Linked DNA regions of Homo sapiens. The protein of the gene in region 2 interacts with the protein of the main gene of each other region in a pairwise test. Each region holds a gene or a part of one and is shown on either strand. Other genes may lie near its edges. The genes, in order: CINP, ATRIP, RIBC2, CDK16, C1orf94 and MX2.

Region 1 (4,220 bases), on a different chromosome or scaffold from region 2:
ATTACAGTGAGCTACAATCATGCCACTGCATTCTAGCCTGGACAACAGAGCAAGACCCTGTATCTAAAAACACCAACAACATTATTGCTGGGCTGGGCAGTGCATGACTGTAGTCTCTGAGGAGACTAAGTAGGGAGGATCACTTGACCTCAGGAGTTTGACACTACTTGGGCCACATGGTAAGAGCCTATCTCATAAAAACCAAAAAACTAAAACTGCTGTTTATTAAGTATCACTCTATACACAGTCCCACAGAATATAAACAGTTTGGGATCAGAGAACTTACAAAAAGGCAAACGCAGATGTAGAAACCATGTAACAAGTAATGCCACAAAAAAGAGTTTAGGCTTTTGCAGGCTCGGCGCGGTGGCTCACGCCTGTAATCCTAGCATTTTGGGAGGGCGCGGTGGGTGGATCACGAGGTCAGGAGATGGAGACCATCTTGGCCAATGTGGTGAAACCCCGTCTCTACTAAAAATACAAACATTAGCTGGGTGTGGCGGCGCGTGCCTGTAGTCCCAACTACTCTGGAGGCTGAGGCATGAGAATCGCCTGAACCCAGGAGGCGGAGGTTGCAGTGAGCTTACATCGTGCCACTGCACACCAGCCTGGTGACAGAGCGAGACTCCATTAAAAAAAAAAAAAAAAGTAGGCTTTTGCATACCTTCACATTCTCCCCATGCCCTAGCTTTTGGCCAGTCTCTTCGGTCTGTTTCAAAACTGTCACCTTTCCCTCATTCTAACCTAGTATGTTAACTCTGGAAATGGCTGCAAACATTGTGAAACTCGAGGATTTGTGTCAGAAGAATGCCAGGGAAGGCAGTTTACATCGCTTGCCATGTCCCCAGTATGCAAACAGCGGCAATTTTTTTGTAGGTTATTTTCATTTTCATGATGTCAAACTTCATTTTAACTCCATGGGATCTTATTATTTAAGACGAAGTCTCACTCTGTCGCCCAGGCTGGAGTGCAATGGCTCACAGCAGCCTCTGCCTCCCGGTTCAAGCCATTCTCCTGCCTCAGCCTCTCAAGTAGCTGAGATTGCAGGCACGCGCCACCACGCCAGCTGATTTTTGTATTTTTAGTAGAGACAGGGTTTCATCATGTTGGTCAGGCTGGACTTGAATTCCGAACCTAAAGTGATCCGCCCACCTCGGCCTCCCAAAGTGCTGGGATTACAGGCATGAGCCACCGCACCTGGCCCAAAAACTAATATAGTCTCATAAAAACTTCAACAATCAGATAGGCATAAAGTAAAAATATTAAACCAGGGATTTTCTACACAAACATAATGTATAAAGCATGCCTAATTTATAGAAACTAGATCACTCACTCATTCTGCTCAGAAACTCATTGATTTTACTCTGAAGCACCCACGAATGACAGATTCCCAGGAGGGGCAGAGAAGGCTGAGCAGCACCACGTGGGGCTGGCCGCGGGTTGTGGGCATGAGCACGCCTGGAGAGGCCATGGGGCTGGTGACAAGCTCTGGCCAGAAGACCCCAAGGTCTGATCCTGGGGTCTGATCCAGGCCTGCGGCACTGGGTCCTAGGCAGACTGTCTGCCTGGTGAGACGTGGAAGGAGCCAGTGTCCGCAGCCGTCTCAGGACGTCAGAGAGCTCGGTGGCCTGTCTCCAGCAGCATGCTCTCCAGATGCAGCCTGCTGTCGCTCTCCACATAGGGCTGGTGCAGCCACATGGACAGGTAGCTCAGGGTGAGGTCGGGATCCCCGGTGTGGGCAAGCTCCTTGGCCACCGTGCGCTTCAGGAGCAGCTCCTTCCTGTACATCTCCAAGAGCTTATGCGAAACCTCATCTGAAAGAAACGTGAATCTCCCTTAATGGCAGTGATTCAAGAACATAGTGTCGACTTGGGAAGAACTACATTTTAACAGCTCTTGATTAAAAACCAGAATCAGCAACAGCACTGAGGGGAAGAAGGGCCCGATGGAGTTTACTACTCTAGCTGGTGCAGATTAGTACAATTTGATAACATGGTCAGCAGAGTGAAATAAAAAGTGTATACAAGCCGGGCGTGGTGGCCCACACCTGTAATCCCAGCACTTTGGGAGGCCCAAGTGGGTGGATCACCTGAGTTCAGGAGTTTGAGAACAGCCTAGCCATCGTGGCGAAAACCTGTCTCTACTAAAAAATACAAAAACTAGCCAGGTGTGGTGGCACGCACCTGTAATCTCAGCTACTTGGGAGGCTGAGGCACGAGAATCGCTTGTGCCTGGGAGGCGGAGGCTGTAGTGAGCCAAGATTGCACCACTACACTCCAGCAGGCGTGACAGAGCGAGACTCTGTCTCAAAAAAAGTATATATAACCTTTTCTACTTGACTCTTAGGTGACCTACAGTGATTATCAGTAGGAGATTCCCCTCAAACTGACAATATTTCACTAAACACATTCCACTAGGTGATTTTACCCTTTCCTGCCTTATTTAAAAAGTCTCAGGTCAACATCAAATAGCTTACCCTTGTCTTGAACTAATAAAAGCTAAAAGTAACCCTTTAAGAAGCGCCTCATAGAGTTTACTGAAGCCATGGGTTTCATTTTTCCCAGTCATCTTCCATGAGGTTGGCTGCAGTGACCCTCAATTTGTTTTTTAATTAAAACAAAAAACAAAAGAAAAACCTCAACAAACCAAAAAAACTCCTTTCTTCCTTTCCCCCCCTCAAAATGAGAGATATCTGCTTCCACAGAGGAGGTGGAATTCACTCTGCCCATTGGTTTTAGAGGCCTAATAACAGCAGCTTGCTTCACGGGTCTCTATGTTTCATATACTCTGCTGATAACCAGGTAATTAAAGCCAAGAAGAAATGTTTAAGATGCCTCTGTCTCCTTTCCTCCCGATACTTTTGCATTGAATTTGAAAGCCTTGTCAGCTTCTTAAAGTACCAGATGTAAACGATACTAAATGCCCTTAATAACCTTTACCCTCCTGAAAATCAACTGAGAAGGAACTACTTACAGAAATGGGTTGTAGGCCACGTGTGGAACAGAGGGGGTCGTTTACTCTCCTCCCCATAATGGTAGTTTTCTAGTTCACAAATTCCCTTGGTAGTTGAAGACAGCTTTTCCATTTTCACCTGTATTTTGGTCTGAAAGATATCCATTTGGAATATGATAATATTATTTGAAATCTCCAGTCTCAGATTTAATAACTCTAAGATTTCAAAGCTAAGAAGTGTAAGTCTATTATGATAAAAATTCCAATAACTAAACACTGTTAACTCTACGTACAGCAAATTCCCAGGGAGATGAAGGTGGACAGTTGCTATGATTTCATTAATTTGAATGACTTTGGTAATAAACCCCAGATTTCCAGTCCTAGAGCAAGAAAGGTTTCCGAGTGCCATTTCACTAGGATTTCCAAACAGCATTAATGTCTTAGACCCAAAGACCTGGAGGAATCCCAAGGCAGGCTCTTGCTGCCTTTTTTTTTTTTTCTTTTTTTTTTTGCGACAGGGTCTCATTCTGTGTGGCATGATCATGCCTTATGCAGCCTCAACCGCTGGCACCTCAGCCTCCCAAGTAGCTGGGATCACAGGTGTGCACCACCACACCCAGCTAATTTTTTTTAATTTGTGGAGACAGGGTCTCGTTATGTTGCCCAGGCTGGTCTCTAACTCCTGGGCTCCAGCAATCCTCCCGCCTCAGCCTCCCAAAGTGCTGGGATTATACAGGCATGCGCCACCGCGCCTGGCTGGCTCTTGCTGCTTTTAAGAAGTGAGAGAGAAAGGCATCAAATGAGCTCGTTTCTGATGCTCTCTCTCTCTCTCTTTTATCAAATGAGCTCGTTTCTGAGGCTCTCTGTCTCTCTATCAAATGAGCTCGTTTCTGATGTTCTCTCTCTCTCTCTTTTTTTTTTTTTTTTTTGAGACGGAGTCTTGCTCTGTTGCCAAGCTGGAGTGCAGTGCCAGGCTGGAGTGCAGTGGCGAGATCTCGGTTCACTACAACCTCTGATTCCCTGGTTCAAGCGATTCTCCTGCCTCAGCCTCCCAAGTAGCTGGGATTGCAGGCATGTGCCACCACGCCCAGCTAATTTGTGTATTTTTAGTAGAGACGGGGTTTCACCATGTTGGCCAGGCTGGTCTTGATCTCCTGAACTCGTGATCCGCCCACCTCGGCCGCCCAAAGTGCTGGGATTCTAGGCATGAGACACCGCACCAGGCCTGACTCTCTCTTATTAACTGCCTTTATTTACGGAAACCTCCT
Region 2 (5,165 bases):
GGGATTTACAGATGAAAGTAATGGAAGAAGAAGTTCTCATTAAGAATGGAGAAATTAAAATTTTGCGAGACTCACTACATCAGACGGAATCCGTTCTAGAGGAACAGAGAAGATCACATTTTCTTCTTGAGCAAGAGAAAACCCAAGCACTCAGTGACAAGGAAAAGGAATTCTCCAAAAAGGTGACCCAGAGCATTTGTTTTGCACCAGCTTTGCCTGCCCACTGAGTTCCTTTGACCAGGGTTGCCTGTAAATCTTCCAGGGAGATTTCAACACTTGTTTGTCTTAAATACTTTCTGCTATCATCTCATTGCCATCCACTCTTCTTCCAGGGTCTGGATATATTTTGGAAAGGGATTTAGATGAAACTCTATTTTGCTGTGGTAGTTGGTCTTGGCAGGAGTAAATAACTAGCTTAGCATTTCTAGAAACAGGTTTACATTAAGGCTCTTTTGCTAGATCAGAAACTCAACTGACCTGGCTTAGGCTAAAAGGAAACGTATTGGCTTCCATATCCAAGTCTGGGAAGAACCGGGGTATGCTGGGACCTTAAATGACTTAAATCTTGCCAGGACATTTTTATTCTCTATGCTATAAACAGGCTCTATACTTATGGTAGAGGGTGTGTTCTCCAGAAGCTCCTGGGCTCATATTTTATAAATACAGAGCAGAATTAAGACTTAGGGCCACATGCAGTGGCTCACACCTATAATCCAGCACTTTGGGAGGCTGAGGTGAGAGGATTACTTGAGCCAGGAGTTCGAGACCAGCCTGGGCAACTAGTGAGACCTCATCTCCACAAAAAAGAAAAAGAAAAAATGAACAAAATTATCCAGGCATGGTGGTGTGCACCTGTAGTCCCAGCTACTCAGGAGGCTGAGGTGGGAGAATTGCTTGAGCCCAGGAGGTTGAGGCTGCAGTAAGCCATGATCATGCCATTGTACTCCAGCCTGGGCAATAGAGCGAGACCCTGTTTCAAAAAAAGACTTAGGCTCCCTCATCTCAAGTTTTAAAATTCTGAGAAAGGCTCTGATTGGTTTAACTTGAGTCAGTTGTCTGTCCCTGGCCAATTGCTATAACCAAAAGCAACCAAAAGCAAAAAAATGACAGCTCCCATTCTAATAAAATAGTCAGAGGTAGGGAAATTATTGAATTTTTTTTTTTTTTTTTTTTTTTTTGAGACAGGGTCCAGGGTTTCACTCTCTTGCCCAGGCTGGAGTGCAGTGGTGCAATCACAGCTCACTGCAGCCTTGACCTCCCAGGCTCAAGCAATCCTCCCATCTCAGCCTCCCAGGTAGCTGGAACTATAGGCACACACCACCAGGCAAAGCTAATTTTTAAATTTTGGTACAGACAGGGTTTTGCTGTATTCTCCAAGCCGTTCTCAAGCTCCTGGGCTCATGCAGTCCTCCCACCTTGGCCTTCCAAAGTGCTGAGATTACAGGCGTGAGCCACAATGCCCAGCCTGTTTCTCAGGGAAAGGAAAATGCTATTCTGGAAGGAAAAACAGTAGGTATCCAGTACCTACTACAACTTTCCCTCAGCACCTCCTCATGCTTCAATCTCAAGGACATGGGATCTTATTCTCATTGTTTCATTCAGCAAACTTAGCAAACTTTAAGCACTTACCTGTGCCCATCATTAACCGCAATAGTTAACTTTCTGTATAAGTGATGAAGAGCAAGGAATTTGCGGTCAGACAAACCTGAATTTGAATCCAGGCTTCATCACACATAAGCAGTGACCTCAAGGTAATAACTTAAGCTCCCTGGCTCATTTCCCTTATCTGTTCCAAGACATAACCAGAAAGGTTGTTGGGAGACTCACACATTCTTGCACTTACTGTGTCTGGTGCTGGGCCTGGCGCAGAGTGTGCTTGGGGAATGATGGCAGTTACTGTTGGCTGTAGCAACTGCAGGCCAGAGCAGCAGGTCTCTCTATACTGCACAGTGTCTTGGTAAACTATTCCAACTACTCTGCCCAAACTTTGAGGAAGACCTGGAATTGTGCACCAGTGCGTTCGTTAATAAAGGTCAATATGTTACTGCTGACATAGGGCACCTTACCAAGCTCTATGCTGGGTATTTTACACTCATCATTCTACTTAATCCTCCCAACTATCATGAAGACAGGTGTTTTATGTTACAAATAAGTTAGGATTCAAAGACATTAAATAAATGGTGGGCTGGTATTTAATTCTTTTTTTTATTTTTTAAATTTTTTGTAGAGGCAAGATCTTGCTATTTTGCCCAGGCTGGTCTCGAACTCCTGGGCTCAAATGATCCTCCCGCCTCAACCTCCCAAAGTGCTTAGGATTACAGGCCTGAACCACCACACCCGGCCAGGGCTGGTATTTAAACCCTCACAAACTACCCTTACAATAGAGTCCAGTATCTTTTTAGAGTACCATATTGTCTTTCAGAAAGAAAGCTAATGTTTAATATTTTAGGACATTTATGTCACAGCAGACTTTCATATGTATTTTTCATTGTTTGTCTTTTACTGGCTTGTGATTTTGAAGCCCAGAGATATTTTTGTGTATATGATGGGACCACTACAAGCATGTTTCTTTTGCCTTCCAGCTCCAATCATTGCAGTCTGAACTCCAGTTTAAAGATGCAGAGATGAATGAATTAAGGACAAAGCTCCAGACCAGTGAACGAGCAAATAAACTGGCTGCTCCCTCTGTTTCCCATGTCAGGTAATGATGGTGCTGGAGGGATAGTTCAGTTTTGCATTATTTAGTAAAAAATCTGCATAACAGTGTCAGGCTGGTCCTAAATGAAGGCCATTTAGACCCCTCCACCTGGGCAGAGATCCTCTTTTCCTGAAGGATTCAGAGGTGGTTTAGATGAAGCTTGCATGGTTTGAGACATCACAGCATAAAGGCCTATACTCTAGAAATGCTGCCTCTGTATGGCACTTTATAAACATAATTCTTCAGGACTAGAAAGACCTGGAAAAATGATCTCCAAATTTTGGGGGTGGGCTAGTCTCTACTTTTATGTAATTTGTTTAACTGATTTTGTTGCAAGCATGGGTGTATTTTAGTTCCAGCTACTTGGAATATTTTTTTCTCATTTGCTTTCTGGGGACCCTTGTCCAACAGCCCCATCCTTTGTGGTCAGATGTGCTCAACTTGTTTTTTTTTTCTTTTTTTTTTGAGACAGAGTCTCGCTCTGTCACCCAGGCTGGAGTACAGTGGTACAATCTCGGCTCACTGCAACCTCCGCCTCCTGGGTTCAAGCAATTCTCCTCCTTCAGCCTCCTGAGTAGCTGGGACTACAGGCACACACCACCACGCCCAGCTAATTTTTGTATTTTTAGTAGAGACGGAGTTTCACCATGTTGGCCAGGCTCGTCTCAAACTCCTGGACTCAAATGATTTGCCAGCCTGGGCCTCCCAAACTACTGGGATTACAAGCATGAGCCACTGTGCCTGGCGCAGCCTGGAAATTTGAACAGTGTCAGTCAGGGCATCTTCTGGTTTTGAACTTTCTACCGCCTTTGTTCATAATGGGCAGTGTGTGAAACTGAACTCTCCATGCCTTGCATTGTCCACATAAGACAAGAGAACTGAGGGGATCCTCTTCACACATCAGTAACAGAAAGACCTCAGCATTATATGATCAGATCAGAGAGTTAATACTGCTTCTCTACCATAAAGACATTGGCACTAAGTTGCTCAGTTTTCAACATACCTAGTAGGTTTATCAAAATTATGATATTTATTTTGATAGCCCTTTTTCTATTTAAAGTCTTTGCATTCTATTGGAAGTCTTTTTTTTTTGAGACAGAGTCTCACTCTGTTGTCCAGGCTGGAGTGTAGTCACATGATCTCAGCTCACTGCAACCTCCACCTCCCGGGTTCAAGTGATTCTCCTGTCTCAGCCTCCCAAGTAGCTGGGATTACAGGCACATACCACCACACCAGGCTAGTTTTTTTGTATTTTTTTTTTAAGTAGAGATGGGATTTCACCATGTTGGCCAAGCTGCTCTCGAACTCCTGACTTCAGGTGATCCACCCACCTCAGCCTCCCAAATTGTTGGGATTACAAGGGTGAGCCACTGTGCCCAGCCTGGAAGTCTTGTGACTATTAAAAAATCGTTTGTTCCACATTGGCTGGGTGCAGTGGCTCACACCTGTAATCCCAACACTTTGGGAGGATGAGGCGGGCAGATCACTTGAGGTCAGTAGTTCAAGACCAACCTGGCCAACATGATGAAACCCTGTCTCTACTGAAAATATAAAAATTAGCTGGGCATGGTGGCATGCGCCTGTAATCCCAGCTATTTGGGAGGCTGAGGCAGGAGAATCACTCAAACCTGGAGGCAGAGGTTGCAGTGAGCCAGGATCACACCACTGCACTCCAGCCTGGGCAACAGAACAAGACTCCATTCCAGAAAAAAAAATAGTTTGTTCCACATTGAAAAGATGTTTTGCACCAGGCATGGTAGCTACAGAGGCAATCCCAGCTACACAGGAGGCTAAGGCAGGAAGATTGCTTAAGGCTAGCAGTTCGAGACCAGCCTGGGCAACATAGCAAAACCCCATTGCTACTTAAAAAAAAAATAAAATTACTGGCCCCAGTGGCTCACGCCTGTAATCCCAGCATTTTGGGAAGCTGAGGTGGGCAGATCATTTGAGCCCACGAGTTCAGGACTAGCCTAGGCAACATGGTGAAACTCTATCTCTAGAAATAACTCTATCTCTAGAAAGAATAAAAAGTTAGCCAGATGTGGTGGTTGCACATCTGTAGTCCCTGTGCTACTCAGAAGGATGAGGTGGGAAGATCACTAAGCCCAAGAGGTGGAGGCTGCAGTGAGCCGTAATTGTGCCACTGGGCTCCAGCATGGGCAACAGAGTGAGACCCTGTCTCACCAAAAAAAAAAAAAAAAAATTAGCTGGCCATGTTGATGTGTGCCTGTAATCCCAGCTACTCAGGAGGCTGGGATTACAGATGGGTGGATTGCTTGAGCCCAGGAGGTCAAGGCTGCAGTGAGCTATGATCATGCTACTGTACTCCAGCCTGGGCAATGGAACAAGACTCTGTCTCAAAAAAAAATGTTTTGGTGGAATTGTAAATAGTGATAATAAAGAATAGTAAAGGAATTATGGCTAATATTATATTTTTGGATGATTAGAAAAATATAAAAATGAGTAA
Region 3 (5,165 bases), on a different chromosome or scaffold from region 2:
TTATCATTCCCATGCTTTTTTTTCTATTTTCTTTTGAGATGGAGTCTTGCTCTGTCTTCCAGGCTGGAGAGCTGTGGCGCGATCTCAGCTCACCGCAACCTCCGCCTCCTGGGTTCAAGCAATTCTCCTGTCTCAGCTTCCCGAGTAGCTGGGATTACAGGTGCACACCACCATGCTGGGCTGATTTTTGTATTTTTAGTAGAGACGAGGTTTCACCATGTTGGCCAGGCTGGTCTCGAACTCCTGACCTCAGGTGATCTTCCCGCCTCTGCCTCCCAAAGTGTTGGGATTACAGGCATGAGCCACCAGGCCCAGCCCCCACGCACTATTTATGCTTGTACTATTTATGTATGTATTCATAACAATATAAAATTGTTTTTATGTGTTTTTAAAATTTATGTAAATGGTATCCTATTGAATAGATCCATTTGCAGTATGCTTTTCTTTCATCCAGGCTTGTATTTTTGAAATTAATCAGTGATTTACATATAGAGAGTATTCATTTTAATTGTTTTATGGCATTTTGTTATATGAATTAACTACAGTTTCTTCATCCATTCCCATACTGATGGCTGGTTTAGATTTTTTTTTTTCAGTTGTTTTGTCATTGTGGACACTGCTGCAATGACTGTCCAAGAATTGTGTCCCTAGCACATGTGAAAGGGATAACTAGAAGTGGAATTGATGGATCAAAGGTAGTTTTATGGGATATTGAAAAATTGTTTCGTTGTAAGTGTACCAAGTTACACTCCTACAAGCAGCAAATGAGAGGTTTTTGTTTTGTTTTGTTTTGTTTTTGAGATGGAGTCTTGCTCTGTCACCAGGCTGGAGTTCAGTGGAGCGATCTCGGCTCACTGCAACCTCTGCCTCCCGGGTTCAAGCGATTCTCCTGCCTCAGCCTCCCAAGTAGCTGTGACTATAGGCACGTGCCACCAAGCCCAGCTAATTTTTGTATTTTTAGTAGAGACGGGGTTTCACCATCTTGGCCAGGATAAGCTCTATCTCTTGACCTTGTGATCCGCCCACCTCGGCCTCCCAAAGTGCTGGGATTACAGGCGTGAGCCACCATGCCTGGCCGCAAATGAGAGATCTTGTTTCCCCACATCCTTACTAATGTGTGCCATTATTAGCATTTTAAATATTTTGCCTTCGATTCATTGGATGTTTCCCACCTTGTATGGGTGATCATCCTTTCATAATTGTATTGATTACTCAGGTTTTTTTTTTTTTTTTTTTTGAGACAGAGTCTCATTCTGTAACCCAGCCTGGAATGCAGCGGCGTGATCTTGGCTCGTAGCAACCTCTGCCTCCTGGGTTCAAGCGATTCTTTTGCCTCAGCCTCCCGAGTAGCTGGGACTACAGGCTCCTGCCACCACGCCCGGCTAATTTTGAATTTTTAGTAGAGACAGGGTTTCACCATGTTGGTCAGGCTGGTCTTATACTCCTGATCTCAGGTGATCCGCCCACCTCGGGCTCCCAAAGTGTTGGGATTACAGGTGTGAGCCACCACACCCAGCCTCAGGTTTCTTTATAGTGATCTGCCTGGCCGTTCCTACACTTTGCCCATTTATTGGGTTGGGGTTTTGGGGTTTTTTTAATTGATTTGTAGGTACTCTTTGTATATTCAGGATACTAATCCTTTAATGGCTGTGTTACTTTTTTGGAGGGTTGTATTACTTTTGCAATCACTGAAAAAATTAGTTTTTAAAGTAGATTCATGGGCTGGGTTCAGTGGCTCACTTCTATAATCCCAGTGACTCAGGAGGCTGAGGCAGAAAGATGGTTGGAGGCCAGGAGACCAGCCCAGGCAACATAATGAGGCCCTATCTCTAAAAAAGTAAATAATAAAAAATAAAATGGATTCAAATTTATTTTTTCCTCTGAATCCTAAGCTTATGGATATGCTGTATCTCTTCCAGCTGCTGAAATGAGGCAAAATGACAAAATCATGTGCATATTGGAAAACCGGAAAAAGAGGGATAGGAAAAATCTCTGTAGGGCTATCAATGACTTCCAACAGAGCTTTCAGAAGCCAGAAACTCGCCGTGAATTTGATCTGTCCGACCCCCTAGCCCTTAAGAAAGATCTTCCAGCCCGGCAGTCAGATAATGATGTTCGGAATACGATATCAGGAATGCAGAAATTCATGGGAGAGGATTTAAACTTCCATGAGAGGAAGAAATTCCAAGAGGAACAAAACAGAGAATGGTCTTTGCAGCAGCAAAGGGAATGGAAGAACGCCCGTGCTGAACAAAAATGCGCAGGTAATGAAACAGAAGAGACGAGCTGGTCTCAACGCTCTCTTCAACAAACCAACCCTACAGTTTTTTTTTTTTTTTAAGCAACCCTACAGTTTTTTTTTTTTTTTAAGCAACCCTACAGTTTTTGTGGGATTTGTTTAAAGTCCTACCAATGTGCACAGACAGCCACATGCTACTTTGGCCCTGTGGGGAAAGAAAAGTCAGAGCCTGCCCTCCAGGAGGGAAACACCTGCAATGACACCTCAGTCATGTGGAAAACACTTTCCGTGTCGGGGTCCCAGTTGGATGCCGGCGTGCAGAGGTAACTCAGAATCGGTCCCTGCCCTCCCAGTCTGCGGGGAAGGTGAATGGGAAAGATGCAGGTCTTCCTGAGTCTCTTGGGTGCTGTGGTAGAAATTCCTACAGGGGACTTTGGGGGTGTAGTTGCAGGCATGGTGGTCACATGCCCTCACCAGGACTCCCCAAGCCCAGGGAACCTCTTGGGCAAAGGCTCCAAGGCATGAAACAGCCTCTCATTGAGGGAACTGCAGAAAGCCCCATGTGTCCTCACTGAGGTCAGCAGCATTCTGCTCTCCCAGCTCCTCTTCATGCCTGCACTCGAGCAGCACTGACCCGCCCAGCCACTTCTGTGCCGGAAAGACCGGGTAACGAAGACGACAACATCCCTGCTCTCTTGGGGTGTGTCAGCGGGTGATGGAATAGTGAGGAGCTATGAGGAAGACAAAACAGGGACCAGGCACAGAGAGGAATGCACTCCGCCTTCTTGAGCGCCTCCTCTCTGCTTGTTAGTTTGCAGTCTCCTTGCTCGGCCCATCCTCCTCCAAGCCTCTTCTCTCCCCAGTCTACTCTCCATGAGTGATGTCTCCCCAGATCATCTTCTCCCATTCTTCTCCCACTCCTACCAGATTTATGCCCTCCCTGCTCCACTGGAACTGCCCTGGCCAACCTCACCAGTGACCTCCATGTCGCCCAATCCAAGGTCGGTTTTTGACCTTCATCTGGACCTAACAGTCGATCACCTCCTGCTCCTGGAAATGCGCATGCAATTCAGCTTTCAGAACACCACTCTCACATTAGCTCCCTTCCCATCCAGGTCCTTTGTTGGTTTCTCATCTGCTCAACCTCTGGATGTTGTTCACACCAGTGCTCTCCTCTACCAGCTAAACTCACCCGAGTGATCTTGTCCGGTCTCATGGCTTTAAATGCCACCTATAGGCCATCATTTCCCAGGTTTATACCTCCAGCCTGGACTCTTCCCTGAATCCAGACTCATAAATTCATCTAACTTCTCTTGGATGTCTAATGCACTTGTCAAGATCAGCACGAGTCCAATAACTCTGTTCTTCCCTGCAGACCTGACCTTCTACCCACATCCGTGACAGCTCCTTTCTTCTAGCTGCCCAGGCCCCAGCCCAGGTAATCTTGACTCCTTCCTTTCTCTCCATTTTTCAGCTACTTTCCACACCCTCCAACATTCCCATTCTGAACTAAGGCTATCAGCATCTCTCGGCTGGGCGCAGTGGCTCATGCCTGTAATCTCGGCATTTTGGGAGGCTGAGGAGGAAAGATCACTTGAAGCCAAGAGATCAAGGCCAGCCCGGGCAACAAAGTGAGACCTCATCTCTACAAAAAATTAAAAAGTTAGCTGGGCATGGTGTCGTGCCCATGTAGTCCCAGCTACTCAGGAGGCTGAGGCAGGAGGATCACTGAGCCTGGAAGGTCAAGGCTACAGTGAGCCGTGATTGTGCCACCGCCCTCCAGCCTGGCCAGCAGAGTGAAACCCTGTCTCAAAAAAAAAAAAGACCGGGCACAGTGGCTCATGCCTGTAATCCCAGCACTTTGGGAGGCTGAGGCGGGCAGATCACGAGGTCAGGAGATCAAGACCATCCTGGCTAACACGGTGAAACCCCATCTCTACTAAAAATACAAAAAATTAGCCGGGAGTGGTGGCGGGTGCCTGTAGTCCCAGCTACTCGGGAGGCTGAGGCAGGAAAATGGCGTGAACCCGGGAGGCGGAGCTTGCAGTGAGCTGAGATTGTGCCACTGCACTCCACCCTGGGTGAGAGTGAGACTCCATCTGAAACAAACAAACAAAAAGCATCTCTCAGCTGCTCTTTGGGTCTCTCCCCTTATCCTACAGAGTAAACATTTCACTCAGAGTAAACGATTTTTTTCAGAGACCTACAACGCCTTCACAGTCTGGCCTTATCTCCTGCTATGCTGCCCTCTCACTCCATTCTTTCCACACTATCTTGCTGTTTTCAGACGTGAGTATATCAGGCTCACTTCTGCCTCAGGGCCTTTGCATGTGCTGTTCCCTCTGCTTAGAAATGTCTTTCCCCAGATATCTGTAGGGATCACCACTCTCCTCCAGGGCTGTGCTAAAGTGCTATCTTATCAGTGAGGCTTCCCCTGACCCCCCTATTTTAAACCCTGTACCCTCCTCCCACCCCACATTCCGTATCCTGTTGCTTAATTTTTCTCCATAGCCTTGATCACTGACGTGTTGTATGGTTCATCCATCTCCCAAGTGGTCTAAATTTCCACCTCTGGCCAAAAGGCTTTGTTTCAGCTGTGGACTTGGTTCTTCAGCAGTCTCCTTGACATCTCACAGGACCCTTCACAACATGTCGGAAAGCAGCCCTGGATCCTCTTCTGCATCTGCTCCTTTTTCCATCTTTCTCCTCCAACTAACTGGTACCTCCTGCCCTTAAACCAGAAGTCTAGGGAATCATCCATGACCCACCCCTGACTCCAGGCCATCTCTGACTCTTGTCCCTTCTACCTCCTGCATATATTTTGAACTGTCCGCTTGTCCCCATCCCTGCTGTCACCCTTGTGATGCAAGCCACCATCTCAGCTGAACAGACCTCTGCCAAGATCTTTCTGATGGCCTCCACTTCC
Region 4 (5,165 bases), on a different chromosome or scaffold from region 2:
GTCTTTGTTCTCATTATGGAGTGTGTGCGCCAGGGGTGGGTTGGGGAAGCCTGGGGCAGATGGGATGGGGGTGTGTACCTTCCCGGATGGCGGTGCAGGGTGCCCCCTCTTCATGTTCCAGTCTGATCTCCTTGAGTGCCACAAGGTTGTCTGTGAGCTTGCTTTTGCCTTTGTAGACGGTGGCATAGGTACCCTGGAATGTGAGGAAGTGTGACAGGAGAGGTGCTATGAGATTCCAGGAGTTCCCACTGACCTTCATCCCCACCATGGGCCTCCTATTTGCCTCTCACCTCGCCCAGTTTGTCCAGCTTAATGTAGGTCTCCAGTTTCCCAAAGCCAATCTCAGACTGTGGGACAAATGAGGCAGGTTAAAGCTGGCTCAGGAGAAGGGTCTGGGAGAGAAGAAAAAGGAGAGGACGGGAACAGAAGGTGCTTACTAGGCTGACACGACGGAGGCGGCGGCTGAGGGGCTTGTCAAAGATGGGGCTATTGAGGGTCAGCTTCTCCAGGTAGCCCTCAGGCAGCCGGATGTCAGCTGGTAGTGATAGGCGCTTGTTGATGTCCTAGCAGGTAAGGCAAGAGAGAAACAGGATCATGAGCTCCACCTCCCCAGGTCCAACCCCCTTTTCCAGTTCCTCCACCATCCAGACGGGGTCAAGCACCTCAGTGGAGATCTTGCGTGGGGGATGGTTGCGCATACGCACTCTCACTGGAGACTGCACCTCATCCGAGGACGTGGCTGAAGCCTGGTCACTCTCCCCATCAGACCCCATCTTCAAGTCCTCGTGCACAATCTCTGGTGGCAGGGAGAGGGGTAGGGCAGGCCAGGTGGGGTCAGGAACCACAGGACACCCCATCCCCCACGAAACATATTCCATCATCACACATGTGTGCACGTGGCCCCCACAGGAAACCTGGAGTCCCTCGGGGAGAGGGTGATGTACCTGAGCCCAGGGAAGCTCAGGTACATCTAGGGCAGGTTGAACTGGGGGGTGGGGAAGCAAAAGTCACCTAGTGGAACCCTTCCTTCCAAGGGCAAGCTGAGCTCAGAGCCGGCAGCTAGGTGGTGGCAGGGGAAGCCAAGGGTCCTGGGAAGGCAGGCCCAGGGCAGGCAGGTACCAGAGGACTGAGGAGGCCATCATAGAGGGCAGAAGGGCAGAGGGAGCCTTGGGGCAGCTGTGACAGGCAAGGCACCTTCTGTCCCCCACCACGGGGCCTGGGCAGAAAGGCAAGAAGAGGAGCGCAGATGGACAGATAGACAGACGGTGTTGAGAGAAGATGGGAGGGAAGGGGGAGAAGAGAGCACATGGGGGGCAGAGAAAGGGCAGAAAATTTAGAGGAAAATGAGGAATGTGACCAGGAGGCAACACCTGGGAAGCAGCCTGGGGCCATATGGGAGAGGGGATAGCCAGTGGACCCACCTGGTGCAGAGCTGAGTGGGCCCCGTGCAGAACGAAGTTCCCCAGGAGCAGCACGTGTGGGGGCCTCTCCAGGGTCACTGCCGCCACCACCACCACTCTCATCCAGGCCTATCTGCTCAGGGGCACCATTGGTCTTGTCTATGCCTCGGCCACCTCGGAGTGTCATTGACAGCTGCCGTTTGATCTTCTTCATCCGATCCATGGCGATCTGAGCAAGGGACAAGGATGGAAATGGGTCTCTTATTAGCATTTGCTTGATCACCATGGGTTCCCTAAAGCCCACAGCCTAGCAGGGGGCACTGACATGAACTTGTCAGTGCTCACTCAACCACTATGGACCCCAGAGCCACTCAGGAGTTCTGGAAACCCAGCATGGATGGGGATCTTTGTCAGTACCTGCCCACCCACACAGCCAGCCCCACTGGGACCCTGCTCCTACGTAGCCCACCTGAGTTCTCAGATTTAGGTGGCTGATTGAGGGCAAGGGCCCTAACGATGGATTGTTGGGATCTAGGGGAAAAGCCCCACTGCAGGAGCAGAAGGCTCCATTGCAGATCTTCTCAGGTACAGCTGCAGTGATGGGCCCAGCCATGGGTCGGCCAGGGCGTGTGCCCAGAATTGAAGGATGGGTGACATGGTCTCGAGCACGGCCATAGAGTGGCATAGTTCCCCTAGCACCACCCTCAAAGGCCAAGGCAGACTATTCCCTGTGGCCACAGGGACCCTCTTCCTGACTTCTCTAGCACTCATCGTCATGACAACCACTGCATCATCCCATTCATCTACCCAGGTGGGGGGGGGGAGGGGAGCGTGTGTCAGGGTGTCCTGCCCAGACCCAACCACTGGGTGGGATTGTGTGGAGGGCGGGGGGGTCTCAGTGTACACCAGCTCTTCTCAGGGCTGCCAGAACGGTTTGATCAGGTTAGGACCCCTAGGGTCCAATCTAGACTTTTACAAGCCAAGTCACATTTCTCCTCTACTCAAGAATGTACATTTTTCATCACCCCAAATACACGCCCCAGTCCTCAATGTGGCCCACAGGTGTTTCTTTACCTCATTTGCCCCTATTGCCTCTTGCCCACGGCCCCCCCCCACCCCCACACCCCCCCGCCATCATTCCTAGTTGCTGTTCTGCAACCACACCCAGTAGAGTCCCACCTCGGGGCCTTTACACTGGCTGTTCCTGGTACCTGGAACACCCTTCCCCTAAATTTCGAAATGGCTCACTCCCCTCTCCCTTTGGGCCATTGCTCAAAGGTCACCTTTTTCATGAGGCCTCTGTGAATAACCCTATTTAAAATCTCAACCATCCCGAACTCCCTCACCTTGCCAGTTATCCCCCCAGCACTCATTACCTCCTCAGAAATGACACCACCTACTTATTGGTTTCTTTAGTCTTTACTGTCTATCTCCTCACCGCCACAACTAGAAGATCAGCTCCGCCAGGGTAGATTTCTGTGTTTAGGTCACGGCTATATCCTGAGGACCTGGAATAGTGACTGACACAGAGTAGATGCTCAAAAAGTGCTTATGGCAGAAATAAGTGAATCAGGGGGCTGAGGGCCTAGGACCAACCTCTGCTGAGGTGATGAGTCCCTGCTATTCATTGAACAACCCTAAACAAGGTAGCCCAGGGATGCTGGCATCGACAGGAAGATGACCTAGATGGATTGCTGAAGGGAATGGGGCCACCAAAAGGCTTAGGCCAGCCGTCTTCTGCTTCCTCTTGGGCTCTGGGCCAGCAAGGAGGGGGAAAGACCTGACCCAGGAACCATCTGGACTCACAGCAGGGCCTAAGATGGCCCTGGGCCCAAGGGAAGTAGAGCTAGATAGGAGGTCGAGGATGAGACTGGGGCTGGATTTGAGGAGAGAAATGGGTCATCTGCTACCTTGAAATCAGGTGCTTCCCCCAGCAGTTCTCGCCCCCACCTGGCTGAACTCACTATCCCCAGGAGGGGTAGGGGCCACCCTAGCAGAAAGACCTCAGATACAGGATGAGGTCCATCCATGGAGAACCCAGGATAACCACAAAACATCCTGACCTGGGAGGCTGAATACTGGGCCTAAGGCAAGGAAGGTAAAGCATGGCCAGCTCCCAAAGACAACCTTGTGTCCCCATATGGCACAGATACCCAGTTGCTTTGCATGTTGTGACAGGGAGTAGGGGAGGGGCTGGGGGAGACTGGAAGTAGGGCTGAATGGAGGATGGGGAGGAAGCCAGGAGGAGCCATGGGTCCACGACCTCTAACTGGAAACCCCAAGGGCTGGACATGCTCTGGAGTTCAGTTTTTTGGGATTTTAGGAAGATGGGGTGTAAAATCTGTATATCACATAACACTCCCAGAAAGGGGGATGGGGGTCTCAGACATGCCCCTGTGAACAGAGATAATTGAACATTTATACGCAAGGAAACTTTTAAATATCATTTCAGTTGAATGAGCTTTTTAGATTTCAAAAAAGGAGGGAGCAAGAAACTGGACATAAAACCTTACCCCAAAAAAGGCACATGTCCTGCCTGACCCTTCCTGATCCCCAAAGACATACACCCATCCTCAGACTACTCTCATACTCAAGGATACTCAACACACCAACCACTAAGGACTTGGTCATCGCACCCTATGTCCTGATCCCCATTAATACACGCTAGACCCTCAAGGAGGCCTCACTACATCTTACCTGCTATTATCTCATATACCCATCAGCATTCAAAGCCCTAACACATAACATACCGCCCTGAACTCTGTCAGCACACACTTAGCCTCCTCTAAGTAACTCTTGCCACCACATTCTTGGGCCCCTCCCTGGCCTAGCTGCTTGTTACCTTCTCCATAGTACTGACTCCCCTCATTAACGTACTGTTCCCCCTACATGATTCTGACCTCTATTAACATGCACTTGGGGTACTCTATAGCTGACCCACATTAGCACTCACTGGACCTTCTTCATGCTGCTCTGAATGCTATTAACATAAAGTGAACCTTACAGATAGATCTCTAACCAGTGTTACCCACACTCAGGCCCCTTCACAGCTACGACCATCCTTAACACACATTCCAGTCCTTCCACTGTCCTGTCCCCTCTGTCAGCACAAACTGAGTCTTCACTCAGGCCTGATTTCTATTAGCACACGCCGGGCCTCACACAGTCCTGCCTCCCCATTAGTGCACCCTGAACCCTTACTCAGCCCTATTCCGCAGGGACACACAAACACACTGTTCTACCATGGCCTGACCCTCATTAGTGCACACAGGTCTCATTCAGCCCTGACTCCCATTAGCACACACTTCAGCCCTCCCTAGCTGTAATCCACTTTAGCACACCGAGATCATCACACATTCCTGTCCTCTATTGCTCTCTGCTCAGAGATATCTCCACAGATATAATCCTTGTTGGTTCACACTTAGATCCCTTCATGAAAGCCCTGATCCCCCTTATTACACACTAGATCCCCTCCGCAGCCCTACCCCCGAGTAGCACCCCCTGGAACCTCAACATACTCTGGTCCTCCGCGGACACAAGGGCACAATCTTCACAAGGTTCTGATGCTTATTAGCATATTCCAGACTTCACACAGCTGACTCTCGAAATGGCACACATTGAAGTGCCTCTATGTCTCTAAACCCACATTAGCAACCACCAGTACTTCTATTACCCTGCTCCTTCCTAGTGTGCCCTCGAGACTCACATTCCCTGTGTCCATGGACACACTCACACCTCACATCACCTTTACCCTTCGTCCACTAA
Region 5 (5,165 bases), on a different chromosome or scaffold from region 2:
GGAAGATCCTGGTGAATCAGTGCAGGGATCAGTGCAGGGATCTCCCCACTGCTGGTGCTGTACATGAAGGGAGGCCCAGTCCAGAGGCTGTGATCGGGTCAGAGGCCATGCCAGAGTGAACATGAGTATCCAAGAGGCTACCGTATGAGATCCAGGGGCGGGGACCAACTAAGGCTGACAGTGGTGTAAACATGAGAGCTGACCTTTGAATCGCCCTTACTCTATGCCAGACACCATTCAAAGTGCTTTGCACCTCTATGATACTCCTAGTAATGAGAGGAGGAGACAGAATACCAAGATGCTGAACAACCTGCCCAGGGTCACACCGATGGGAGTTGACTGGATCAGGGTGTAAGCTTAGGCTGTCCACTCCACCATTCTGCAGTGAGGTGATGGGGGCTGCGCTACTCTCCTGGGGGCTTCCCAGGGCTCAGCCCCAGCACCCTAGACTCTGCACTTAGAGCTGTTGGCTTGCTCCTGACCCCTTTGCTGCTGGGCAAAATTCCCCAGTGAACCCCTTCTCTGGTCTTTCATTGCTTCAGGTTCTGAGCATGAAGAACAAGGAGGAATGGACTAGAATTAAGGCTCAGTGAGGCTGTGACTTGCCCCAGCTCACTCAGCAAGGTTGTTGGGAGAGGATCCAGGTTTCCCCATTTTTCAAAACCATGCTCTCAGTGCTGCATCCTACCGCTGTGGTATAGGACCCTCTGGGGGTCCAGTGTGTCTGCTGGGTTATCTTGCCTGGAAGTGTGTTTTTGTCATGTTATGCATCCATCTCCCTTTTCTGGGGCCTATGTCCTTCTGCAAAGCCACGCCTTGGTGAGCTGGCACTAACACCGTCTGTCTCTCTGACCCATTTCCAGAGCTCTGGAGCTCAGCAGTGGCAAAGATGAGATCTCCTTGTTGGTGGAACAGGAGTTCCTAAGCCTCACCAAAGAGCACTCGATCCTGGTCGAAGAGAGTTCTGGGGAGCTGGAGGTACCCGGCAGCTCTCCCGAGGGGACCAGAGAGCTGGCTCCCTGCATTCTTGCCCCTCCTCTAGTGGCAGGCAGTAATGAGCGCCCCAGAGCCTCCATCATTGTCGGAGACAAGCTTCTGAAGCAGAAGGTGGCCATGCCCGTTATCAGCAGCAGGCAGGACTGTGATTCTGCCACTTCTACTGTCACAGACATTCTGTGTGCCGCCGAGGTCAAGAGCAGCAAGGGGACAGAGGACAGGGGCCGCATCCTAGGTGACTCCAACTTGCAAGTCAGCAAGCTTCTGTCCCAGTTCCCACTGAAGTCCACTGAGACATCCAAGGTCCCTGACAACAAGAATGTGCTGGACAAGACAAGGGTCACCAAGGACTTCCTACAGGACAACCTGTTCAGTGGCCCTGGACCCAAGGAGCCCACAGGGCTGAGCCCATTTCTGCTGCTGCCTCCCCGACCTCCTCCTGCACGTCCTGACAAGCTCCCTGAGCTCCCTGCTCAGAAGAGGCAGCTCCCAGTGTTTGCCAAGATCTGTTCCAAGCCCAAGGCTGACCCTGCTGTGGAGAGGCACCACTTGATGGGTGAGTGGGGTTGGAACTGGGGTAGAGTGGGCCTGCAAGGAGGAGGTCCTTCCCAGGAAGCCAATCAGGGCTGCAGCATGTACATAAAGCATCTTCATGCAAAGCAAGACAAAGCAGCCTCTCTGGTGGGCACAGCCCCGAGGGACGGGCTGTTTCCAGCCCCCACAGGCTTATTTTGCTGGGTTCCCCTGTGCAGGGCACAGCTTTTGTAAGCAAACCCAGAGGCCCTGATCTCAACATACTTTGAGAAGAGAAATAGGCGCCATGTAGTAATTGGCTTAACTTTGGAATCAAACGGGTGTCCAGAGTACATTGAAGGAAGTGTTTACCCTAGCTGGGTTCAGGGTGAAACTACAGCATGGAGATGCCAAGATGTATAGAAGAGAAATTTGATTGGTAGCTGGGGTCATTTGGCATCTATCTCATGGAGGTACCTTGAGGACATGAGGCCTGGTCCTCCCTCTCTGGGGTATTGGGTAGATGCGTAAATTATCCAGGCATAGTGCAGACTGTTGACTCTGGGATCTGTTTCCTGGGACTTACTTTATTGAGGAGCTCACATTCTTCCCAGGAAAGCCAGCCACCTCCCAAGCTTCTCCTACTTTATGCCCAGGATTCTGTGTGTTGTTCTGATCTAACCAGTCAGACTATATGGTTCCAAGAAGGTAGGCTGATGGCCATGGCCATTGCCTAGAGTCAGCAGTCACTAAGAGAGTGATCATACTCATGTTAGCCAAAAGAACAATTTCCTCTGGGCTATGAGCATGGATGGATAACTGAGAGACACCCGTATTGGGAGGGTCCAAATTAATCTACCTGAGAAAATAAGAGCAAAGTCATCCTGAACATTCTGTGTCCTGGAGCATTGCAGGAAGGCCAAGGAATCAGAGCTGTGGATAGCAAGCTGAACTCTGGGTCCTGGACAGGCTTCTAGGAGCCAGAGGGCTTTAGGATGGGGAGCTGTAGGAGAGAGACGGTTGAGCTCTTCCCAGAGAGGAGACCTTCCTCCTACCTCTTCTCCAGAAGGGACCCATAGATATTTCCCTGTTGGATGGGGCTGCTGGACTGGAGGCAGTTCTGGTCCCACCCACCCCACCCACCATTGGTGCATGTCTGTGTGTACGAATGTGTGAGCAAAAGTGTGCCAAAAGGAGTTTTGAAGGTTTTAGTGTATTTGTTAGAGAAAATGCAAGAGTGGTGTGTCTAAGCATGTCTGTGTACACATTTGTGCATATGTCTGTCATGTATGTACTTGTGTATGTGTAACTAAGTCAAAGGAACAACAGATAGGAGTGTGTCTATGTCTGTGTGCCCAGACCTGGGACGAGGGAGCTTCGTAGATGTTTAAGGCATCTGTAAATATGAGTGGGAAGCTGCAGGTGTGTGTGTCTCTGGGGAAAGGGCTATTATCAGTGGGTACTGTTATTTCAGCTCACAGGCTAGGGGCTGAATTCGGCAACCGGAGGAACTCCTGGAAAAGACTCTAGGGATGTTTTGCTAAAAATGTTGTTTCCTTCTAAATTGGCTCAGGCTAGAGCAGCTCTTTCCTTTGCTGGAATAGTGCTAGGAAGACAGCCTTAGCCCCGAAGCTCAGCCCCCAAGCCGCTGGGCTAGGGGGCCAAAAGCTGGTGGGATCTGGTCTATTATTATCAACAGGTAACACTGAGGCACAGGTCCTTTCTGGCTGCATCCAGACAGATCCCGGTGCCTGCTATTGGGCAGCACAGTGCACAGCCATCTGGTGGGTGGCCAGGTTTCCCACCACTGCTGTGGAGGATCCTGTGATGGTCCCCAAAGTATGTCTGCATTGGGAGAATAAATGCTCAGTCTCTTTAGTGAGAAACCTGTGTCTGCCACCAATCTTGTCCCTGCTCCACACTCTAGCCATATCCAGTGACTCACAATGTCTCCTTGATGCTTCCAGGCCTTTGCCCACAGTTATCCCTGCCTGCCATGCCTTCCTCCCCAATACCCCTGGATGTAAGGCCTCGCTGCAACCCTACTTCCTTCTGGAAGGAACCTTCTCAGACAGAAGCAGCCTCAGCCACCCTGTTCTCCATTTCTTCCCTCTGCCACCTCATGGTGTTCATCTACCTTATCCTGGGGCTATTTCTGGGCATGTCTCTCTTTTTTTCTTGTTATGAGCTCCTGCAGGGCACAGTCTAGCTCTGACTCACAACTGTGTCCCCAGCACTCAGGTCAAGGCCTGGCACTGACAAGTGAGCTGAATCACCTGTGAGTAATAAAACAAAAGTAGAATCCAGAATGAGAGACCAAAGTGTGTGGCTCAGACCACATGTTCTGTAAGAATGTGTGACTCCTTCACTAAGCCATGTGCTCACTGAAGGCAGGAACTGTGTCCACAACATCCTTGTTTTCGCAGCCTGGCACTATGGATGGTTGGAGAGAAGGAATAGTGGAAGGAATGAGGAAAAGTAAGGAAGGAGAGGAAAGAAAAGAAAGGTAATTCGAATAAAGGAATGATGGAAGGAAGGATGAAGGGGTGGATGGATGGAAGGAAGGCAGGAAGATAAAGATGGATAGTCAGACAAATGGATGGACAGATGGATGGATGGATAAGTAGACGGATAGAAGGAAGAAAGGCAAAGATGATGGACAGATGGGTGGATGAATGAACAGATGGATGGATTGATGGATGCATGAGATCGGGGGGCAGGGGCCAGGGAGGGTTTCAGGGAGAGATTGGGATTGTATTTGGCTGAAAGAGAGTCCCCCAAAGTGGTCCAAGCCTCAGGTGTGTGCTGCAGAGGATTCATCATTTAGTCCACAAAAAGGTGCTTCCAGCATCCAGCACTTGGCCTTCCAGAGGCATTGACTCAGTTTCTTTCCTGCTACAGAATGGAGCCCTGGCACCAAGGAGCCAAAAAAGGGTCAAGGGAGCCTCTTTCTCAGCCAGTGGCCCCAGAGCCAGAAGGACGCCTGTGGTGAGGAGGGTTGCTGTGACGCAGTGGGCACCGCATCACTGACCCTGCCGCCCAAGAAACCTACATGTCCAGCCGAGAAGAACTTGCTCTATGAGTTCCTTGGGGCCACCAAGAACCCAAGCGGGCAGCCGAGACTTCGAAACAAAGTGGAAGTGGATGGGCCGGAGCTGAAATGTGAGCTGACCTACCCAGGGAGGGATTGGAGGGGAGGGGGTTGCAGTGACCCTCACAGGCTTCAGGGTGGCTCTGTCACCAAGTGGCTGTCTTATCTACTGCCTTTCTAGAGGTGTCAGTTTTTAAACCCATAAAATGGGGGCAATGACTTTCTCCCCATATCCCTTGTTGGGAATACAGTTGCTAGAGAAGTGTAGTTGGCTTTCAAGGGTCACGTCAGCATTATTAATGGTCACTTCTGAATATAGCCCTGACCCAGCATGTATTATATCCTCTCAAATTGCCCAAGCCAAAACAAAAGATCCTTGCTTTAGATTATTTCTATATTGAGATTATGTTCCCGCTTTCTTTTCCTACAAGGGTTCTAGTCAAACCTCTTTTCCCAAAAGGATGCCAATAAGGGGAAACTGAGGACCCATTTCTGATTTTATAAGCCCCCACAACATCTTGTAGAAAGGAAGAATCCAGGATTCTGATCTTGAAACAACTCAACC
Region 6 (5,631 bases), on a different chromosome or scaffold from region 2:
TGAGGTCAGGAGTTCATGACCATCCTGGCCAACATGGTAAAACCCCATCCCTACTAAAAATACAAAACAAATTAGCTGGGCATGGTGGCACATGCCTATAATCCCAGCTACTTGGGAGGCTAAGGTGGGAGGATTGCTTGAACCTGGGAGGCCGAGGTTGCAGTAAGCAGAAATCTCACCACTGTACTCCAGCCTGGGCAACAGAGCGAGACTCCATCTCAAGCAAACAAAAAAGAAACAAAGAGCCAGGTCACACGGACAATGACAGGGTGGAGTTCCACTCCAAGGTGCACCCGCTGCTCCTGTGCTCTGCTGGGAGGGACACACCCCAGGTAAGAACCCTGCTTGTCTACAGCACTTCACCATTGCCTTTGTCCTGTTAATTCAGGAAAGCATTTGCTTGATCTTTCCTTCTGTGATTGGAGAGGCCATGGGAGAGTGGATGCATGCTGGCTCTGGATGGCTCCAGGTGCTGCAGGTGCTTCCAGGTGGCCAGGAACTTCATCAGCACACAGAGGCGCTGGCGCTTTCCATAGAGTCAGCGTGCCAGGGCAGGAGGCGGGCACTGGGGCTTCTGGACTTCGCCTCTTTACCAAGCTGCACACTGTAACGCTCCCTGATGTGGAGCTGAGGGAAGAGCTCCGCCCAGCGGCTGTGACCGAGGCCTGAGCAGCAGCATCTTTTCTGGCCCCGGCCCCTGTGCTTGGATGCTGCGTGGGACATTCATTCACCCTCAGGGCTTTAGTGCTCAGAACGCAAGAACCCTGTCCTTGAAGTTTGCATGCGCAGGCACCTCTGGTCCTTCCCAGGGCTGCTGGTGAGGGGCGTGCAGGAGGGGGATGCTGCCTTGACAGAGGGTGGAGGGTCCCCTGAGCTGGCCCGAGCTGCTCGTGTCCCTCTGTCCGGCTTCTCTGAGGCCTTTCTTTGTGCCTTCCTTGAAGCAGTAGGCCGGCCCAGGCCCTGTTGTGAAAGACATTCCTAGTGAAACCGAATGTCACATCACGCTGCCAAGTCTGAGATTCACATTCCTCCCCTCACTCCTCAGCCTCTGTCCGCCCGGGCTCTTGGGAAGAGAAGTGGTTCAGGGATAGGTGATCCTGACGATGATCTCCTGGTGTTAATATTTCTAATGCCAAGGTTTTGAAAAACATGTTAAGTTTCTAAATATCTTCCGTAAAGTTAAGCCTGCACTCAAGGGAAGTCACTACAATGACTTAGCCAAGAGGAGCTCAGGAGTTTTTTTAAACGTATAGTGTTGATGTCTGGGAGAGGATCACGGGTGGATAGGAGAGCTGAGAGCCTGCTTCCTCCCTCCCAGCCATCACTGCCAGTCCTTGAGAGGCTTGGTCCCCTCCCCGGTGTCTGGAGGGCTCCTCCTGGAGGTTCCCAGACCTCTTGGCTCTGGTGATGGGAATGCCTGGCCCTCCTTGACTTTGGTCACAGAGCAGGAAGCCTTAGGGAGCATGCGGTTGTGCACCTTCACTTTTGCAGGTGAAAAGTAACTGAGGACCAGAAAGATGACATGCAGCTGGCTCAGGGCTGAGTTCCGGAGCCTGGGGTTTGTCCTGGGGCCTCCTTATCTCCAATGGGAAGAAAACCGTCTTGGTTTTGCGGCGGGGACCTCAGGCACGGGTGCTTGGAGAAAGCTGTTGACCCTCCTTCTTTGGGTTTTCCGCACCTAATGAGGGGAGAGGTGACATTTGTCAGGTGCGGCTCAGGCATGAAGCTAAGCAGGACAGCTCAGAGCGTCCAGATCATGTACCTGAGAGCATGTCCTCGGCTGTAACAGGAGTGCATCTGTGAGGCCCGATACACGAACCACACGTGGCTATTCATTCAAATTACATGGAGTTCGAAGTCCAGTTCCTTGGTCGCAGTAGTCACATTTCAGAGCCACACAGGTGGTACTGGATGGCACTGTCAGGGCAGAACCTTCCAGTGACTGAGCCACTCTGAGCTGCCCCCATGCCAGCCTCCCCTGGAATCTGTTAGCAATGCTGATTCTCAGGCCCAGCCCAGACCTGACAGATCAGACTCTCTGGCGGGGGTGGGGGGACAGCCGCCCCGTCTCCACAGCTCTCCCAGGATTCGGATGCAGCTGGAGTTTGGGGACCACTCTGTGAGTCATCTGGAGAGCACGCTGATAACTCAGTTTCATTTCTGTGGCCAGATCAAGTAGTTTCATTTCTCTCCCTGTTTGTTGATGACGGAGCAGGGGAGGGAGTGGTTCATATGCCACATAAAAGTGAAGTGGAGGAAAGGGAAGAGATGATTTCTCCATCCTGAACGTGCAGCGGTAAGAGCGGGGCCGGTGCAGGGAGGGCTGCTTTGTGTCTGATGCACAGCAGATGCGTGTTTAAAAAATATTTCCTGAGTAACGTGACATCTGCTTGGTGAATGTGGCTTGTGCTGGGAGGCAGGAGCCACAAAGATAAGATTCTGGTGTGAGGAGCAGAAAGGGCCCATGTTGCCACCAGCCCACAGTAGCCTTGTGCACAGACAAAGAGGCTCTGGAGGGGAAGTGGCTGGCCCTGGGGACAGGGTGGCCTCCATCCTGATCTGGCCAAAAGTCGGGTGGACGCAAAGGGGTGGTTTTTAGGACAGCTTTGCTCAGCGTCCTACAAAGTCTGGGGGTTGAGTAAGGAGCTTTGTGCCCGAAAAGTCGTCTCGGAGGGTTTCAAGTGTTCCTTCTTTTGTGGTATTTGTGATGCTCTGACGTAACCTTAGTGACGGTGATATGCTGGGAAATTGGCTCTCATGGGGCGGGGCAGGGCAGAGGGTGGTGCCTGATTTCTAGCCTTTGCCGATTCTCTTCCGTTCTCATGGTGTGAATGCTCCCACCGTGGCCAGTTCCCAGCCAGTAGGGGCCAACTCCAGCACTCTGGACCACTGCACCCTGGATCGCCTGCACTCTGGGGGCTGAAGTCCATTTTATAATTGATATAGAGCGGAAAGGAGACATGGTGGTATTGATGACGCAGTTTTTTTTTCTTTTTTTTTTTTTTTTTTTTTTTTTTGAGAGAAGTTCTCGTTCTGTTCCCCAGGCTGGAGTGCAGTGGCGTGATCATGGCTCACTGCAGTCTCAAGCTCCCGGGCTCAAGGGATCCTCCCACCTCAGCCTCCCAAGTAGCTGGGACTACAGGTGTGCACCACCACACCTGGTTAATTTTATTTCTTTTTGTAGAGACAGGGGCTCTCTATGTTGCCCAGGCTGGTCTCAAACTCACTGGCTCAAGAAGTCCTTACGCCTCAACCTCCCAAAGCACTGGGATTACAGGCGTAAGCCACCCCATTCGGCTTTGATGACACCTTTTGAACACTGTTCTTTCTCATTTTGTGTTTAGAATGTTGTCTCTAGCTGTTTAAAAAGATCAGGATTCCAAGCTATCTTTCCTCGCACCCTCTCCTCCGTTTACTCTGCTCTACTTCCCAGCCCCGCGCCAACCCCTGAAGCACTTTTGACTCCCTTCGGATGTACAATTTTTTTTTCTTTTTCTTTTTTGAGACAGGGTCTTCCTGCTCTGTTTCCCAGGCTGGAGTGCAATGGTACCATCATAGCTCACTGCAGCCTTAAACTTCCGGGCTCAAGTGATCCTCCTGCCTCGGCCTCCCAATGCATTGGGATTACAGGTGTGAGTCCCTGCGTCTGGCCAGGATGTATGTGAGCTTTATTTAGGTTTAGCCCCTGCCCTAGAATGCAAGCTCCCCCAGAGATCTTTGTCTGCCTGACTCGATATGTATCTCAAGGACTTAGTGCTCAATATATATCTTTGAGTGGGTGAAAAACAAGCGGTCTTAAAAAGAAAGGAGGTGAGCCCGGGGAGATAAGGTCGCATTCAGTGCCAGTGCTTGGTCAGCCATGACCCTGCACCATGCGAGTGACATTGGGACTGGAGCAAAGGGACACAGCAGAGTGGCCCCTGGTGCCCAGGACCCGGCAGAGCTCTCGGACTGGTTGCAAGCCAGCAATAGTGGCTATGCCCGTGTGGGAGACGCAGCTTGCCTTAGACTTCAGCGGGAACCACCATGTCCGGCACAGCCATTTCCATCCTTCCCAGGGGTGCTTACGTGATCCTGGCAGTCTCAGTCAAACTTCCAAACTCAGCAGGGAATGTGTGTGCTTGTCCTCCAATCTCAACACCCTGGGATGCAGTGTCAGGTGCAGGTCAGAGACAGCAGTGGAGACCCGATTCCCAGCCCTGGGCTGGGGCCCCCACAAGGCCTCCAGCATCTCCCCATGGCCCAGTTTCCTCATCTGCAGGACAGGCTCTCTTGAGAATTTGGGGGGATGATAGACCCAAAAGCATTCTGGAGCCAGAGGCTTCTGCCTTCGTCGGGGGCATCAGGGAGTGTCAGTCATGAATTCACCATGACTTCTGACCACCTCTGCCTGGACTCCCTCACCTCAGTGCTGCCTAAGCTGGGTAACCACCAGCTTCCTGGGCCTTCACCCCGCAGGGCCTTCCTCTCCAGTGATGCGCCTGGAAAGAGGGATTTCTCTTTGCAAAGGTCTCTGGAATTGCCAAGTTATGGCTTTAAGCATATGTAGGGAAACTCCCTCCCCTTTGCACTTTTGGAGTTTTTTTCCAGCCCTCAATAGAAATCAATACAGTGACCAGGCTGCCCTTTTCACCACACTCTCAGGCTCCTGAGGACCCTGGTGGAAGATGGACTAAGCACATCCTGGGCATCGGGGACAGGCACCGGCTCCTCAAGCGTGGACAGGGACAGGGATGGGGCGGGGCAGCGCTGCAGGAGGTGGGGCCTGGGCTGATTTTCTTGCTGTACTACTTTCAGTCACTACGTACCTGTTATGGGTTGAACTAGGCTCCCTGTATTAGTCAGAGTTCTCTAGAGGGACAGAACTAATGGAATATAAAAAAATAAATATATACATATATATGGAAGTTTACTAAGTATGAATTTACAGGATCACAAGGTCCACAATAAGCAATCTGCAGCCTGAGGAGCAAGGGGAGCCAGTGTGAGTCCCAAAACCTGAAGAACTTGGAGTCCAATGTTCGAGGGCAGGAAGCATCCAGCACAGGAGAAAGCTGTAGGCTGGGAGGCTAAACCAGTCTCTCTTTTCACATTTTTCAGCCTGCTTTATATTCTAGCTTTGCTGACAGCTGATTAGATGGTGCCCACCTAGACTGAAGGTGGATCTGCCTTTCCAAGCCACTGACTCAAATGTTAATCTCCTTTGGCAACACCTCACAGACACACCCAGGATCAGTACTTTGCATCCTTCAACCCAATCAAGTTGACACTCAGTATTAACCATCACACCCCTCAAATGTATATGTTCAAATCCTAACCTCAGAACCTCTGAATGTGACCTTAGTTGGAAATAGGGTCTTTGCAGATGTAATTAAAGACGAGGTTGTTTTCCAGTAGGGTGGGCCCTAATCCAATATGACTGGTATCCTTATAAAACAGGAAAATTTGTTTGTTTGTTTGTTTGTTTGTTTGTTTAACTTCTATTTTAGGTTCAGGGGTCCATGTGCAGGTTTGTTACATGGGTAGATTGTGTCATGGGAGTTTAGTGCACACATTATTTCATCACTCGGGTAATAAGCGTAGTAGCCAATGGATAGCTTTTTGCTCCTCTCCTTCCTCCCACCCTCTACC

What was found.
Region 1: the proteins of ATRIP (region 2) and CINP interact in binary tests that used the Homo sapiens proteins (3 or more experiments, as listed by UniProt).
Region 3: the proteins of ATRIP (region 2) and RIBC2 interact in a two-hybrid assay, tested with the Homo sapiens proteins (one large-scale study listed by IntAct).
Region 4: the proteins of ATRIP (region 2) and CDK16 interact in a two-hybrid assay, tested with the Homo sapiens proteins (one large-scale study listed by BioGRID).
Region 5: the proteins of ATRIP (region 2) and C1orf94 interact in binary tests that used the Homo sapiens proteins (3 or more experiments, as listed by UniProt).
Region 6: the proteins of ATRIP (region 2) and MX2 interact in binary tests that used the Homo sapiens proteins (3 or more experiments, as listed by UniProt).

What each region holds. Positions count from the first base shown.
Region 1 is NC_000014.9:102,346,946-102,351,165, forward strand, and holds the end of CINP (cyclin-dependent kinase 2-interacting protein), read right to left. Parts: intron 3,104-4,220; coding exon 2,974-3,103; intron 1,815-2,973; coding exon 1,612-1,814; 3' UTR 1,337-1,611; downstream 1-1,336. UniProt on the Homo sapiens protein: Component of the DNA replication complex, which interacts with two kinases, CDK2 and CDC7, thereby providing a functional and physical link between CDK2 and CDC7 during firing of the origins of replication.
Region 2 is NC_000003.12:48,451,718-48,456,882, forward strand, and holds part of ATRIP (ATR-interacting protein), read left to right. Parts: intron 1-11; coding exon 12-182; intron 183-2,582; coding exon 2,583-2,701; intron 2,702-5,165. UniProt on the Homo sapiens protein: Required for checkpoint signaling after DNA damage. Required for ATR expression, possibly by stabilizing the protein.
Region 3 is NC_000022.11:45,415,683-45,420,847, forward strand, and holds part of RIBC2 (RIB43A-like with coiled-coils protein 2), read left to right. Parts: intron 1-1,919; coding exon 1,920-2,264; intron 2,265-2,281; exon of another isoform or gene 2,282-2,495; coding exon of another isoform or gene 2,496-2,562; intron 2,563-3,614; coding exon of another isoform or gene 3,615-3,640; exon of another isoform or gene 3,641-3,677; intron 3,678-5,165. UniProt on the Homo sapiens protein: Microtubule inner protein (MIP) part of the dynein-decorated doublet microtubules (DMTs) in cilia axoneme, which is required for motile cilia beating.
Region 4 is NC_000023.11:47,220,016-47,225,180, reverse strand, and holds part of CDK16 (cyclin-dependent kinase 16), read right to left. Parts: intron 4,897-5,165; exon of another isoform or gene 2,921-4,896; coding exon of another isoform or gene 2,839-2,920; exon of another isoform or gene 2,801-2,838; intron 2,131-2,800; exon of another isoform or gene 2,086-2,130; coding exon of another isoform or gene 1,870-2,085; intron 1,630-1,869; coding exon of another isoform or gene 1,624-1,629; coding exon 1,422-1,623; intron 797-1,421; coding exon 663-796; intron 564-662; coding exon 438-563; intron 348-437; coding exon 291-347; intron 194-290; coding exon 79-193; intron 1-78. UniProt on the Homo sapiens protein: Protein kinase that plays a role in vesicle-mediated transport processes and exocytosis. Regulates GH1 release by brain neurons. Phosphorylates NSF, and thereby regulates NSF oligomerization. Required for normal spermatogenesis.
Region 5 is NC_000001.11:34,196,362-34,201,526, forward strand, and holds part of C1orf94 (uncharacterized protein C1orf94), read left to right. Parts: intron 1-863; coding exon 864-1,552; intron 1,553-4,410; coding exon 4,411-4,671; intron 4,672-5,165.
Region 6 is NC_000021.9:41,359,760-41,365,390, forward strand, and holds the start of MX2 (interferon-induced GTP-binding protein Mx2), read left to right. Parts: upstream 1-2,267; 5' UTR 2,268-2,296; intron 2,297-3,257; exon of another isoform or gene 3,258-3,657; intron 3,658-5,631.